2 separate regions of the Homo sapiens genome follow, and region 1 is linked to region 2. A link means that fine-mapping ties the variant in region 2 to the expression of a gene that starts in the linked region. Tissue or cell type: whole blood. Region 2 holds a variant in brackets; the other region holds the start of a gene. All regions are shown on one strand. Distances are from middle to middle.

The links. PIP is the estimated chance that this variant, and not a neighbour inherited with it, causes the effect.
Region 1: NDUFB11 starts here. The variant in region 2 is fine-mapped to the expression of NDUFB11 in whole blood (TOPMed, PIP 0.97).

What each region holds. Positions count from the first base shown.
Region 1 is chrX:47,142,139-47,147,249 of GRCh38, reverse strand. It overlaps NDUFB11 (NADH:ubiquinone oxidoreductase subunit B11), which reads left to right and starts at 2,548. Exons shown (of 3, transcript NM_001135998.3): 1 at 2,548-2,777; 2 at 4,506-4,636; 3 at 4,810-5,034. The coding sequence starts at 2,571. The coding sequence ends at 4,933. RBM10 (RNA binding motif protein 10) reads right to left here and starts at 2,029. Exons shown (of 24, transcript NM_005676.5): 1 at 1,765-2,029. RefSeq lists an enhancer at 1,736-2,005.
Region 2 is chrX:47,254,791-47,262,380 of GRCh38, reverse strand. No RefSeq gene overlaps it. Among named protein-coding and RNA genes, the nearest start is that of USP11, 26 kb to the right of the region's middle. The variant T/C (reference allele first, on the strand shown) is at 3,181.

The DNA.
Region 1 (5,111 bases), 110 kb after region 2:
TTGTCTTCCAGCTCCCAGCACTCCTGTGCATCACAGTATGAAGGTAGCCCCTACTTGGCCTGCTCCTCCCTTTCCCCGCAAACATAAGGCTAGAGCCCACTGCCCTAGAAAACAGCAAGGACTTCAGCAGACAGGGGGCATCTTGCAGAGAGACCTGGCGGGGCCACCCACAGTGTGATCAGGGCTTTGCCACCTAAGACAGGTAGACAAATTCAAGCCTGGGGCTGCATCCCAGGGTGGGGGTAGGGGACTCTCAGGGCTGAAAGTCTTGCCTGAGATTCAGCACATCAGACAAGACTTCACAACAATGGGGGCCCCAGGCTCCTTCCACAGGCCCCAAGGGACCATCTCATCCTCCCAACAAGCTGCTGGCTGTCCCCTATAAGGCAGCAAAAGACCATGAAAGGCTCTTGGGGGGGTGTGTGAAGGGGCGAACTTGGCGACGAGACAGCTGCCACCTCCCTGGGCTCCTGGCCAACACAGCCTTGGCCCTCACACAGCAACTGGCTCAGCCCTGAGCCCTGTCTCTTATGTGCAGCCCGGTCCTAAGGTGGTTCCCTCCCCAGGGCTCAAGCCCGGTTTCCAGAGGCAAAAGGGGCCCTTTTGGAGGCTGTTCTGAACCACTGTGCTCTTCTATTGGGATGGAGCAGCAGCCACTTCATCCAACCCTCAGGGCTGTGGTGAGAACTCAGGGAGTCCTGAGAACCCTGTGACCCAGCCAGAGGTCAGGATGAATCCCAGATCTTCAGGCCCCACCCTCTGAATAAGAAGCAGGTAAAGCCAGGCAATAATAGCACCTGCTCAACACTAGGTTGCTGCCACACCTTTGCTCTATGCTCGTGCACACACATACACAGACAAACACACTCCAATTTTCTCTTCCTCCTCAAGCCACAGGGAACCCGAGTTACCTGCTCCCAGGTGGGCAAGAGTTAGAATCACACAGAGGCACTGGCGTCTGAGAGCACAAAAACCTTCAAGAGACTCTGGCAAAGGGGCCAGAGTCACACAGTAACATCCACCACAGCCAAGGGCCAGTCACAGACACGAGCCCCAAATAACTACGGGCCCACATCACAGAAGGAACACACAGTAAGGACCACAATTACACAGTGGGTCCCCTTTCCATGGATGAGCGTCAGTGTCACAGATACAAACTCCCCAAAAGAAGGGGCAATGAGTCACACACACATTCCCTGCATGCCCCTTCCCACCCAATAAGTGGGTTAGGGTCAATCAAAAGACAGTCGTCCCCCAAGCCCCGCCCCATGGATAAGGATCAGAGTCACAGACCGCCCCCCCTCAAAGGGTAAAGACCAGAGTCACATCCCCCCTCCGATCCCCCAGGAATAGAGACCAGAACCACAGAATATTTCCCCATGGACCGATAAACACCAGAGTAACACAGAGCAGCATCCCCTCTCCTATGCACAAACTCAAAGTCGCAGACAACCGCTTCCCCACTGATAAACTTCGATGTAGCCGACACAGTGATCCACAGTAGCCCACTCCCATCCGTCCCTCCCTTCCCCCAACCCGCATGCACCCATCCCATGTCCCAGTCGCGCACGCGCCTTTGCTCACACCAAAAAAAAAAAAAAAAAAAAAAAAAACCAAAAAAAAAAAAACCCTCCCGGGTTGAGACATTGCACCAACCCCTCCGTTCCGCGCATCTCCCCCGACCCGAAGTCCGCCCTCGCGCCTCCTCTACGTCCCCGCCCCGGGCCCCTTACCTCCGCCCCCACGACCAGCGTCGACGCTCACCTTCTCGGCCCGGGCTGTCAAGGAAGGGCTCCCAGACATCACCTCTGCCCGCCGCCACCTCCTCCAACTCTCCCAGCTCAGCCGGAGCCGGAGCGCGCAACAACCAAGTCCGAGACTGGAGGCAGATCGGGGGGAGGGGAGAAGCGCCAAGCGCGCTGCCCTCCCAGGGAAACTCACTGCCGCCTACTCCCAGCCGGCCACAGTCACCAGCTCAAAATGGCGACGACGAGAAGGGAGTCGGCGCTCCGACCACCATCCACCTACTAAGGAAGCGCGCTCTGGCCGGCCCCGGCGATTGGTCACCGCCCGCTAGGGGACAGCCCTGGCCTCCTCTGATTGGCAAGCGCTGGCCACCTCCCCACACCCCTTGCGAACGCTCCCCTAGTGGAGAAAAGGAGTAGCTATTAGCCAATTCGGCAGGGCCCGCTTTTTAGAAGCTTGATTTCCTTTGAAGATGAAAGACTAGCGGAAGCTCTGCCTCTTTCCCCAGTGGGCGAGGGAACTCGGGGCGATTGGCTGGGAACTGTATCCACCCAAATGTCACCGATTTCTTCCTATGCAGGAAATGAGCAGACCCATCAATAAGAAATTTCTCAGCCTGGCCGAAAATGGTTGGCCCCACGAAGCCACGACAACTGGAGGCAAAGAGGGTTGCTCAACGCCCCGCCTCATTGGAAAACCAAATCAGATCTGGGACCTATATAGCGTGGCGGAGGCGGGGCGATGATTGTCGCGCTCGCACCCACTGCAGCTGCGCACAGTCGCATTTCTTTCCCCGCCCCTGAGACCCTGCAGCACCATCTGTCATGGCGGCTGGGCTGTTTGGTTTGAGCGCTCGCCGTCTTTTGGCGGCAGCGGCGACGCGAGGGCTCCCGGCCGCCCGCGTCCGCTGGGAATCTAGCTTCTCCAGGACTGTGGTCGCCCCGTCCGCTGTGGCGGGAAAGCGGCCCCCAGAACCGACCACACCGTGGCAAGAGGACCCAGAACCCGAGGACGAAAACTTGTATGAGAAGGTGAGAGGCGGGGGGGGGGGGGGGGGTAGTGGGGACGGAACCCCGAAGGGGTCAGTCCGGGATCGGCAGATGGGGCGCTGTAGAGGACGTTCTTAGGCAGTAGAGGACTGCGCGGCCGGCGAAAGCCTAGAAGACTTGGGAATTTTGCCTACCTTGTGTTCCTCCTTTGTCTCTCGGTATCTTCGTTCCAGGGCCAGAGGCAGGATTGGTTTTATTTTGCAGACAGAAATCACACCTCAAGTGGACAGCGCTCAAAACACGTTAGAAGCAGTATAGTACAACGATAATACTAAACACCGATATGGCACTTGCTCGTTGCCGTCTGCATTCTTTTTTTTTTTTTTATAGGGACGAGATCTCGCTATGTTGCCCAGGCTGGTCTCGAACTCCTGGCTCAAGCGATCCTCTCGCCTCGGCCTCCCAAGGTGCTGGGATTACAGGCATGAGCCACCGCTCCGGGCCCCGTCTGTGTTCTAAACACTTGACATGCATTAGCTCATCTTATACTCGAAACAAACCCCATTTCGAGGTGGGCTCTATTATTATACTCATCCTACAGATGAGGAAACTGAGGCACAGAGATGTTAAGTGGATTGCCCTAGCTCACATAACTGAATACATGGTGGAGGTGGAACTGGTATTTGAATTTAGGGCTACCAGGTCTGCTGTGCTGTATTAATAGCAGACGCTGTGAAATCAGGCAGCACTGACGGTTACCCACCCGTGTGATCTTGGTAGCATAAACCCTTGGTGCCTCAGTTTCTTTGTCTGTAAGATGGGAACAGTAATAGGACACCTTCTAAAAAATAGGACACCCCACCTGCCTCATGTAATTAAATGAGTAAAAATGGTCAGAACAGCAGCTGGCACTTCGTAAGTATGTACTCAGCACTAGAATGTGTTTATTATTGCCATGTTTCACCTCACTGAGATATTGTGAGGTGTTTCTATGTGAAAAGACTGGCACATAATAAGTACTTCATCAATACTAACCTCTGGTTAAGGGGCTTGGATATATAGGATGCTTGTTCATTCTGTAAATATGTATTGAGGGCCTGCTGTATGCCAGGCTCAGTTCAGGGCCCTGGGGATACAGCAGTGTGGAAATCAGACAAAGCCCATGCTCTCATAGAGCTTACATGATAGTGGGGAAGACAGAAAATAAACAGTAAAATATTAGAAAACAATAATACAAAGTAGTATAATAGATAATATAACATGAGAATGTATGATATACAGAGAATGGGGAAAGTATGCTACTTAGGTAAACATAGACTAGAAAGAGACAGAAGGAAGAGAGGATGTGAAGACAAAGTTAAGCAAGATAAGTGGATAGAGAATGACTTGGGTGTAGGGGGCTATTTCATTAGCTTGAGCTATAAGAAATTGCCAGTATTCAACCATTTGTGACCTATAAAAATAGCAGTTTCCTATGCTTCAACTTTGAAAGACAAGGTAACTAGGGAGTGCCTCCTGAAGGAAGTGGTGATGAATCTAAAACCTTGAATGAGGAGACAGATCCAGCCATGACTAGAGCTGGAAGAAAGGCTTTCCAGGCAGAGAGAGCAGCAAGTGCAGTGGCCCTGCAGTGGGAAGGAGCTTGACATATCCCAAGAATGGAAACAGAGGAATTTAGTGAGAGGGGCACATGGAGACCAAGTTATGCAGGGCCAGAATAAGGCTTTGTGGAGCAGCAGGAAGCCCTCATTGACCTCTATTTCTCCACAGAACCCAGACTCCCATGGTTATGACAAGGACCCCGTTTTGGACGTCTGGAACATGCGACTTGTCTTCTTCTTTGGCGTCTCCATCATCCTGGTCCTTGGCAGCACCTTTGTGGCCTATCTGCCTGACTACAGGTGCACAGGGTGTCCAAGAGCGTGGGATGGGTAAGAGGCAGAGGCAGGGATGGAGGTTGAAGGGGATTCTGCCAGGAGTTTTGTTCCTGCACCATTGGGAATGGGGAGCTGAGATGAGGGATTGGTATCAGTTGAGGCTCCCTCACGTCTACCCCTGCTATTTGCACTACCAGGATGAAAGAGTGGTCCCGCCGCGAAGCTGAGAGGCTTGTGAAATACCGAGAGGCCAATGGCCTTCCCATCATGGAATCCAACTGCTTCGACCCCAGCAAGATCCAGCTGCCAGAGGATGAGTGACCAGTTGCTAAGTGGGGCTCAAGAAGCACCGCCTTCCCCACCCCCTGCCTGCCATTCTGACCTCTTCTCAGAGCACCTAATTAAAGGGGCTGAAAGTCTGACTCGCTAGTGTTGATTGTGTTGTGAAGGGGATATGGGATGGGGGTGTCAAAAGCTTTAAAAGGGCTGCTGCAACCTT
Region 2 (7,590 bases):
ATCTTTTTTAGCTTCTTTTCTTGTCAGCGTTCACCTGAACTCTGGCTATTTCCACAACAGCACAATCTGAGGCTTTTGGTGTTTCTATGTCCTGTAAAAATGGGGAGGCAGTCCTGTGACCTTGGTGGTTATGGGAGGTAGGAATGGAGACATAGATGAAATACATTGTACCAGTCAAAGCAGGTGATGTTCTCTCTTTGTTCCAGCAACAGAATAACAAACCTCCAGTTTTTGGATTCCGGATTAAGACAAAGAGATACTGCAAATAGCTGAAATTTGAAAACAAAAATCCTAGAGAAAGTCAGTTACTGGTTGCTTTCAAACCTCATGCCAGAGCCACAAATAAAGTAGCAATCCCAGCAAATTCGCAACATCTGCTGCCTTGCCCATCCTGTGATGGAATGCCCTTCACAAGCTAAGATGTCATTAATCCCACCATGGCAGGGTAGAAAGAAGTAAAGCTAAAGAATAAGATGATCTAGAGCAGGGGTCCCCATCCCTGGTCCGTGGGTCCATACCAGTCCATGGCCTGTTAGGAACCAGCCACACAGCAGGAGGTGAGCAGTGGGTGAGCCAGCATTACCGCCTGAGCTTCGCCTCCCATCAGAGCAGTGGCGGCGGTAGATTATCATAGGAATTCAGACCCTATTGTTAACTATGCAGGTTCTCCTTATGAGAATCTAATACCTGATGATCTGTCACTGTCTCCCATCAGCCCCAGATGGGACTGCCTAGTTGCAGGAAAATAGGCTCAGGGCTCCCACTGATTCTACATTATAGTGAGTTGTATAATTATTTCATTGTGTATGACAATGTAATAATAATAATGGAAATAAAGTGCACAATAATGTAATGGCTTGAATCATCCTGAAACCATCCCCCTCCAACCCCTGGTCTATGGAAAAATCATCTTCCATGAAACCGGTCCCTTGTGCCAAAAAAAGTTGGGGACTGCTGATCTAGAATAACTAACTGATTTCTAAAGAGTTGACCCTATTCACATGGCTCACCCCTTTGAATAATAGGAATACATTTCTTTTCTTACATTTTTTTTTTTTTGAGACAGTCTCGCTCTGTCTCCCAGGCTGGAGTGCAGTGGCCCAATCTCGGCTCACTGCAACCTCCGCCTCCCGGGTTCAAGCGATTCTCCTGCCTCAGCCTCCTGAGTAGCTGGGACTACAGGCATCCACCACCACTCCTGGCTAATTTTTGTATTTTTAGTAGAAACAGGGTTTCACTATATTGACCAGGCTGGTCTCGAACTCCTGACCTCGTGATCTGCCCGCCTTGGCATCCCAAAGTGTTGGGATTACAGGCATGAGCCACCACGCCCGGCCTCTTAAAATTTTTTTATTGGCCGGGTGCAGTGGCTTACACCTGTAATCCCAGCACTTTGGGAGGCTGAGGCGGGCGGATCCCGAGGTCAAGAGATTGAGACCATCCTGGCTAACACAGTGAAACACCGACTCTACTAAAATACAAAAAATTAGCTGGGCGTGGTGGTGGGTGCCTGTAGTCCCAGCTACTTGGGAGGCTGAGGCAGGAGAATGGCATGAACCCGGGAGGCGGAGCTTGCAGTGAGCCGAGATCGCACCACTGCACTCCAGCCTGGGTGACAGAGCGAGAACCTGCCTCAAAAAAAAAAAAATTATTTATTTTTATTTTTTGAGACAGGGGTCTCACTTTATCACCCAGGATAGCGTGCAGTGGCACCATCTCGGCTTATGGCAGCTTAGAACCTCCTGGGCTCAAGCAATCCTCCTGGCTCAGCCTCCCAAATAGCTGGGACTATAGATGCACCCCACCACACCTGGTAATTTTTTTTTTTTTGTAAAGATGAGGTCTCACTATGTGCCCAGGCTGGTCTCCAACTCCTGGGCTCAAGGGATCCACCTGCCCCTCCCAAAGTGCTGGGATTACAGGCATGAGCCATCATGTCTGGCTCACATTTCCTTTTTTTTTTAAGCTTACATATAATCATATTCGTTAGGAGGACTGAAAAGTAGTTTCTTTTACTGTAAGCAAATAAAATTGCTTTTAGGTACATGTTAGAAGCAACACAGTAGAAAGGGTGTGGCTCTGGAGAGAAGACCTAGCTAAAGATACCCCTTACGTGCTACATGACCTTGGGCGAGATGCCCAACCTCCCAAGCGGCTGCTCCACATCCCAGAGCATTATCACAGAGGACAAACGAGAATCTACCTGAAAGCCCTTTGCAATTTCTTTTTCTTTTCTTTTCTTTTTTTTTTTTTTTTTTTTTTTTGAGACGGAGTTTCACTCTTGTTGTCCAGGCTGGAGTGCAGTGGTGCAATCTCAGCTCATTGCGGCCTCCACCTCTCGGGTTCAAGCAATTCTCCTGCCTCAGCCTCCCGAATAGCTAGGATTACAGGCGTCTACCACCACGCCCAGCTAATTTTTGTATTTTTAGTAGACACAGGCCTCAGATGATCTGCCCACCTCAGCCTCCCAAAGTGCTGGGATTATAGGCATGAGTCACTGTGTCTGGCCGCCCTTTGTAATTTCTGAAGTCCCCTATACATTATTGCTTTTATGTCATTGGAGCAGTGCACAGTTTTTGTTGTTGTTGTTGTTTTGAGACGGAGTCTCGCTCTGTTGCCCAGGCTGGAGTGCAGTGGCGTGATCTCAGTTCACTGCAACCTCTGCCTCCTGGGTTCAGGCAATTCTCCTACCTCAGCTTCCAGAGTAGCTGGGATTATAGGCATGCTCCACCATGCCCAGCTAATTTTTGTATTTTTAGTAGAGACGGGGTTTCACCATGTTGGCCAGACTGGTCTAGAACTCCTGACCTCATGATCTGCCCCCCTCGGCCTCCCAAAGTGCTGGGATTACAGGTGTTAGCCACCGTGCCCAGCCAGCAGTCCACAGTTTTTAATAATTATTAAAGTATTTTTGTAGCTTATGCTTGTAATCTCAGCATTTTGGGAGACCAAGGTGGGAGGATAGCTTGAGCCCAGGAATTCCAGACCAGCCTGGGCAACATGGCGAGACCCTGTCTCTACAAAAAATATAAAAATTAGCCTGGCATGGTGCCACACGCTCGTAGTCCCAGCTACTTGGGAGGCTGAGATGTGAGGATCACCTGATCCTGGGAGGCAGAGGTTGCAGTGAGCTGTGATCGTGCCACTGAACTCCAATCTGGACAACAGAGCGAGACACTG[T/C]CTCATAAAAAAAAAAGAAAAGAAAAGAAGGAAGGAAGGAAGGAAAGAGAGAGAGCGAAAAACAAAGAAAGAAAGAAAGAGGAAGAAGAAAGAAAAGAAAAGAAAAAAGAAAAGAAAAGAGATGAGTTTAAAGCTGGAGACAAGGACAGGAGTTTGGGAAGAGGCAGTAGTGTTACCAAGAGGACACAAAATCTGCTGCCTTCAGAACAATTTCCTTTTGGAAAGAGAAGAGTCCTCTCCACCTCTGCCCCATTACCAGCTAGGCACAGAGAAGCCTACTGCCTGGGAAAGAAAGAAGCAGAAAATACCCTCAGCCAGGGTAGTGCTATAGCAAACCAACACCAAAATGTTGTTGGGTTCTAGGATGAAAAGAAACAAGATTCTAGAGCTGCTCAGAAGTTAGGACATAGATTGTCTATGACAATGGGAAAAAACTGGGTGGTCCCTTGGAACCCTGGTTTCAGACACTGTTCATTTTTAACAATACCAAAAAGCTATATTCATACTTAAGTTTTCTTCTATGGTGTTGTTACATATTGTTTTTACCATTTTATAGAGTAGCTAACACAGGTAGTGATCAGATCAGTGGGGTGGGTGGCAAATGCATGTGGACCATGATCAGCTATGCATTGCATTCTATGGAAACTTTAACTAAAGATTCAGAAATGGTGAGGGATTACACGCCATTTCTGTAAAGGTCGTCCATGTGCTACTCATTTTCCCTACTTTTCTATTCCTCCTTCTCCTTGTTTTCATCTGCCTTCTTCTCTTTTTAATTTCTGTATTTCTCTCTGTCCTATCTCCTTATTACACTGAAAGAATGTGCAACTTTTTTTTTTTTTAATGGAGTCTTGCTATATCGCCCAGGCTGGAGTGCAGTGGTGTGATCTGGGCTCACTGCAACCTCTGCCTCCCAGGTTGAAGCAATTCTTATGCCTCAGCCTCCCGAGTAGCTGGGATTACAGGCGCCTGCCACTATGCCCAGCTAATTTTTGTAGTTTTAGTAGAGACGGGGTTTCACCATATTGACCAGGCTGGTCTCGAACTCCTGACCTCGTGATCTGCCCGCCTCAGGCTCCCAAAGTGCTAGGATTACAGGTGTGAGCCACTGCGCCCAGCCTTTTATTTTTTTATTTTTTTGAGATGGAGTCTCACTTTGTTGCCCAGGCTGGATGAAGTGCAGTGGTGCAATCTCAGCTCACAGCAACTTCTGCCACCCAGGTTGAAGCGATTCTCCTGCCTCAGCCTCCTGAATAGCTGGGATTACGGGAGCACGCCACCACGCCCAGCTAATTTTTGTATTTTCAGTAGAGATGGGGTTTCACCATGCTGGCCAGGCTGGTCTCAAACTCCTGACCTTAACCGATCCGCCCACCTCAGCCTCCCAAAGTGCTCGGATTACAGGCGTGAGCCACCGCGCCCGGCCAGAATGTGCAACTTTTAAAAGGTGCAGTAAGAAAAACTTTAAAATCATATAGGTACCCATGTTGATATCAATTTTTGTCCGGTTGCTAAGGAAACATTTTTAATGATGAGAGCTGTGATGGCACACACAAAAAAGACTGTAAGCATTTCACAAAATGGATTACATTTTTTGGATATAAAGAATTATAAAAATCCAACAGTGTTAAAAGTAATAAATATATGTATATGGAGTTTTTGCTGTCTTTTAGTATCTATGATTAGAAACATATCAAGGCAAAAAGTTTGAATAAGTACTGAGCTAAGTAAGCCTCTATCTCAAGAAATGAAAAAGAAGAAGAGCAAAGTACATTTGTAAAAGTTGTGGGAAAGCACTTCTGCTTCTGGTCAAGATGGAGTAACAGGGACAAGACTTACTACCTGCTTCAAACAATAGATTTACACAAAATACATGCAATGACAGCTTTCAAAACAATAACATCAGAAAATGGAGGACAGTGGAAACAAATGATGTGAGCCTGTTAGCAGTGGCAAATCTGTCCAGGTCTACAGCAACCTCAATTCTTGCCTCCTCAGAAGAAAGAATTTGACTGGGCGTGGTGGCTCACACCTGTAATCCCAGCACTTTGGGAGGCTGAGGTGGGATGATCTCTTCAGCTCAGGAGTTTGAGACTGGCCGGGGCAATACAGTAAGACTTTGTTTCTACAAAAAATATTTTTAAAAAATAGCCAGGTGTGGTGGTGCACACCTGTGGTCCCAGATACTTGGGAGGCTGTGGTGGGAAGAACCCTTCAGCCCAGGAGATCAAGGCTGCAGTAAGCCATGATCATGCCACTGCACCCCAGCCTGGGCAACAGAGTGAGACTCTGTCTCAAAAAACAAAAAATACCAGCCGGGCGCAGTGGCTCACGTCTGTGATCCTAGCACTTTGGGAGGCCGAGTCGGGTGGATCACTTGAGGTCAGGAGTTCGTAACCAGCTTGGCCAACCTGGTGAAACCCCGTCTCTACTAAAAATACAAAAATTAGCCGGGCATAGTGGCAGGCGCCTGTAATCCCAGCTACTCGGGAGGCTGAGGCATAAGAATTGCTTCAACCTGGGAGACAGAGGTTGCAGTGAGCCCAGATCACACCACTGCACTCCAACCTGGGTGACAGAGTGAGACGCTGTGTCAAAAAAAAAAAAAAAAAAAAAAAAACCCAGAAAACAATGACATTCTTCACAGAAATAGAAAAAACAATCCTAAAATTTATATGGAATCACAAAAGACCCAGAACATCCAGTCTGTCCCTGGATCTAAGGAAAAAGGAAAATAAAAAAGAGAGAGAGAGAGAGAGGCTCCTAAAAGCCAAGAGATCTTGAGCAAAAAGAATAAAGTTGGCCGGGCACGGTGGCTCACGCCTATAATCCCAGCACTTTGAAAGGCCGAGGCAGGTGGATCACTTGAGATCAGGAGTTCGAGACCAGCCTGGCCAACAGGGTGAAACCCCATCTCTACTAAAAATACAAAAGCTGCGCATGTTGGAGTGCCCCTGTAGTCCCAGCTACCAGGGAGGCTGAGGCAGGAGGATCACTTGAACCCAGGGGACAGAGGTTGCAGTGAGCCGAGATTGTGCCACTACACTCCAGCCTGGGCGACAGAGTGAGACTCCGTCTCAAAAAAAAAGAAAAGAAAAAAAGAAGGGCAAAGAAACTGAATAGACATTTCTCAAAAGAAGACATATGAATGGTCAACAGGTATATGAGAAAAATGCTCAACATCACTAATCATCAGTGAAATACAAATCAAAACCACAATGAGATACCACCTCACACCTGGTAGAATGACTATTATCAGAAAGGCAAAAGATAACAAGTGTTGGTGAGGATATGGCATGAAGGGAACACTTGCAGGCTGTTGGTGGGAATGTAAATTAGTATAGCCATTATGGAAAAGTGTATGGAGGTTCCTCAAAAAGTTAACAATAGAACCACCATATGATCCAGCAAACCCACTACTGGGTATATATCCGAAGGATATGAAATCATGTTGAAGAGATATCTGCACTCCCATGCTTGCTGCAGCACTATTCACAACAGCCAAGAAAGAAAGAAAGAAAGAAACAATGAAATGCATCCCAGAACAAAAGCTCCAGGATACTTATAGGAATACAAAATATCCAGCAACCATAAGGTAAAATGCACAATGTCTGAGATCCAACCAAAGATTACCAGGAATGCCTTTGAAGGGAAAAAGGACCCATAATGAGGAGAATAATCAATCAAAACAGACTCAGAACCAACAAGGATGTTAGAATTAGCAGTGAAGGACATTAATACAATTATTATTATAACTTTATGTGTGATATTGTGATATAAGAGTAAGTATATATTTGGTCTTTGTTCCTGGTTCCTGGCACAGAGCTCTTAAAACTCTTACAATTTCCTGAATGGCGAGGTGAGAGGATCATCTTGTTGTTCATAACATGCCTCTTTCAATCATCCCTGAGTTTATGATCATCCCTGAGTTTATGCTAATGAGGTGACTCTTGGAGGGCCCCTAGATAGCTTCAAATAAGGGCTGTTTGCCAGCCCCACCCTGGGCCTCTGGGGAGGGGAGAGGGTCTGGAGATTGAGGTAATCATCCATCTCCAGCCAATGGCTTCATCAATCATGCCTACATGATGGAAAGTCCATAAAAACCCCTGAATGAAGGGTTTGGAGGGTTTCTGGGTTGGTAAACACATCAACATGCTGGGAGGGTGCCCCTTCCATATCTAGTCCTATACATCTCTTCCATTTAGCTGTCCCTGAGTCGTATCCTTTATAATAAACCAGTCATAGTAAATAATGTGCCTTCTTGAGTTCTGTGAGCCATTCTAACAAATTATCCAACCCGAGGAAGGGGTTGTGGGAACCCCTGATTTACAGCCGATCAATCAGAAGTATGGGAGGCCTAGGGTTTTCAATTGGTGTCTCAAGTGGAGGCAGTTATGTGGGACCAAGCCC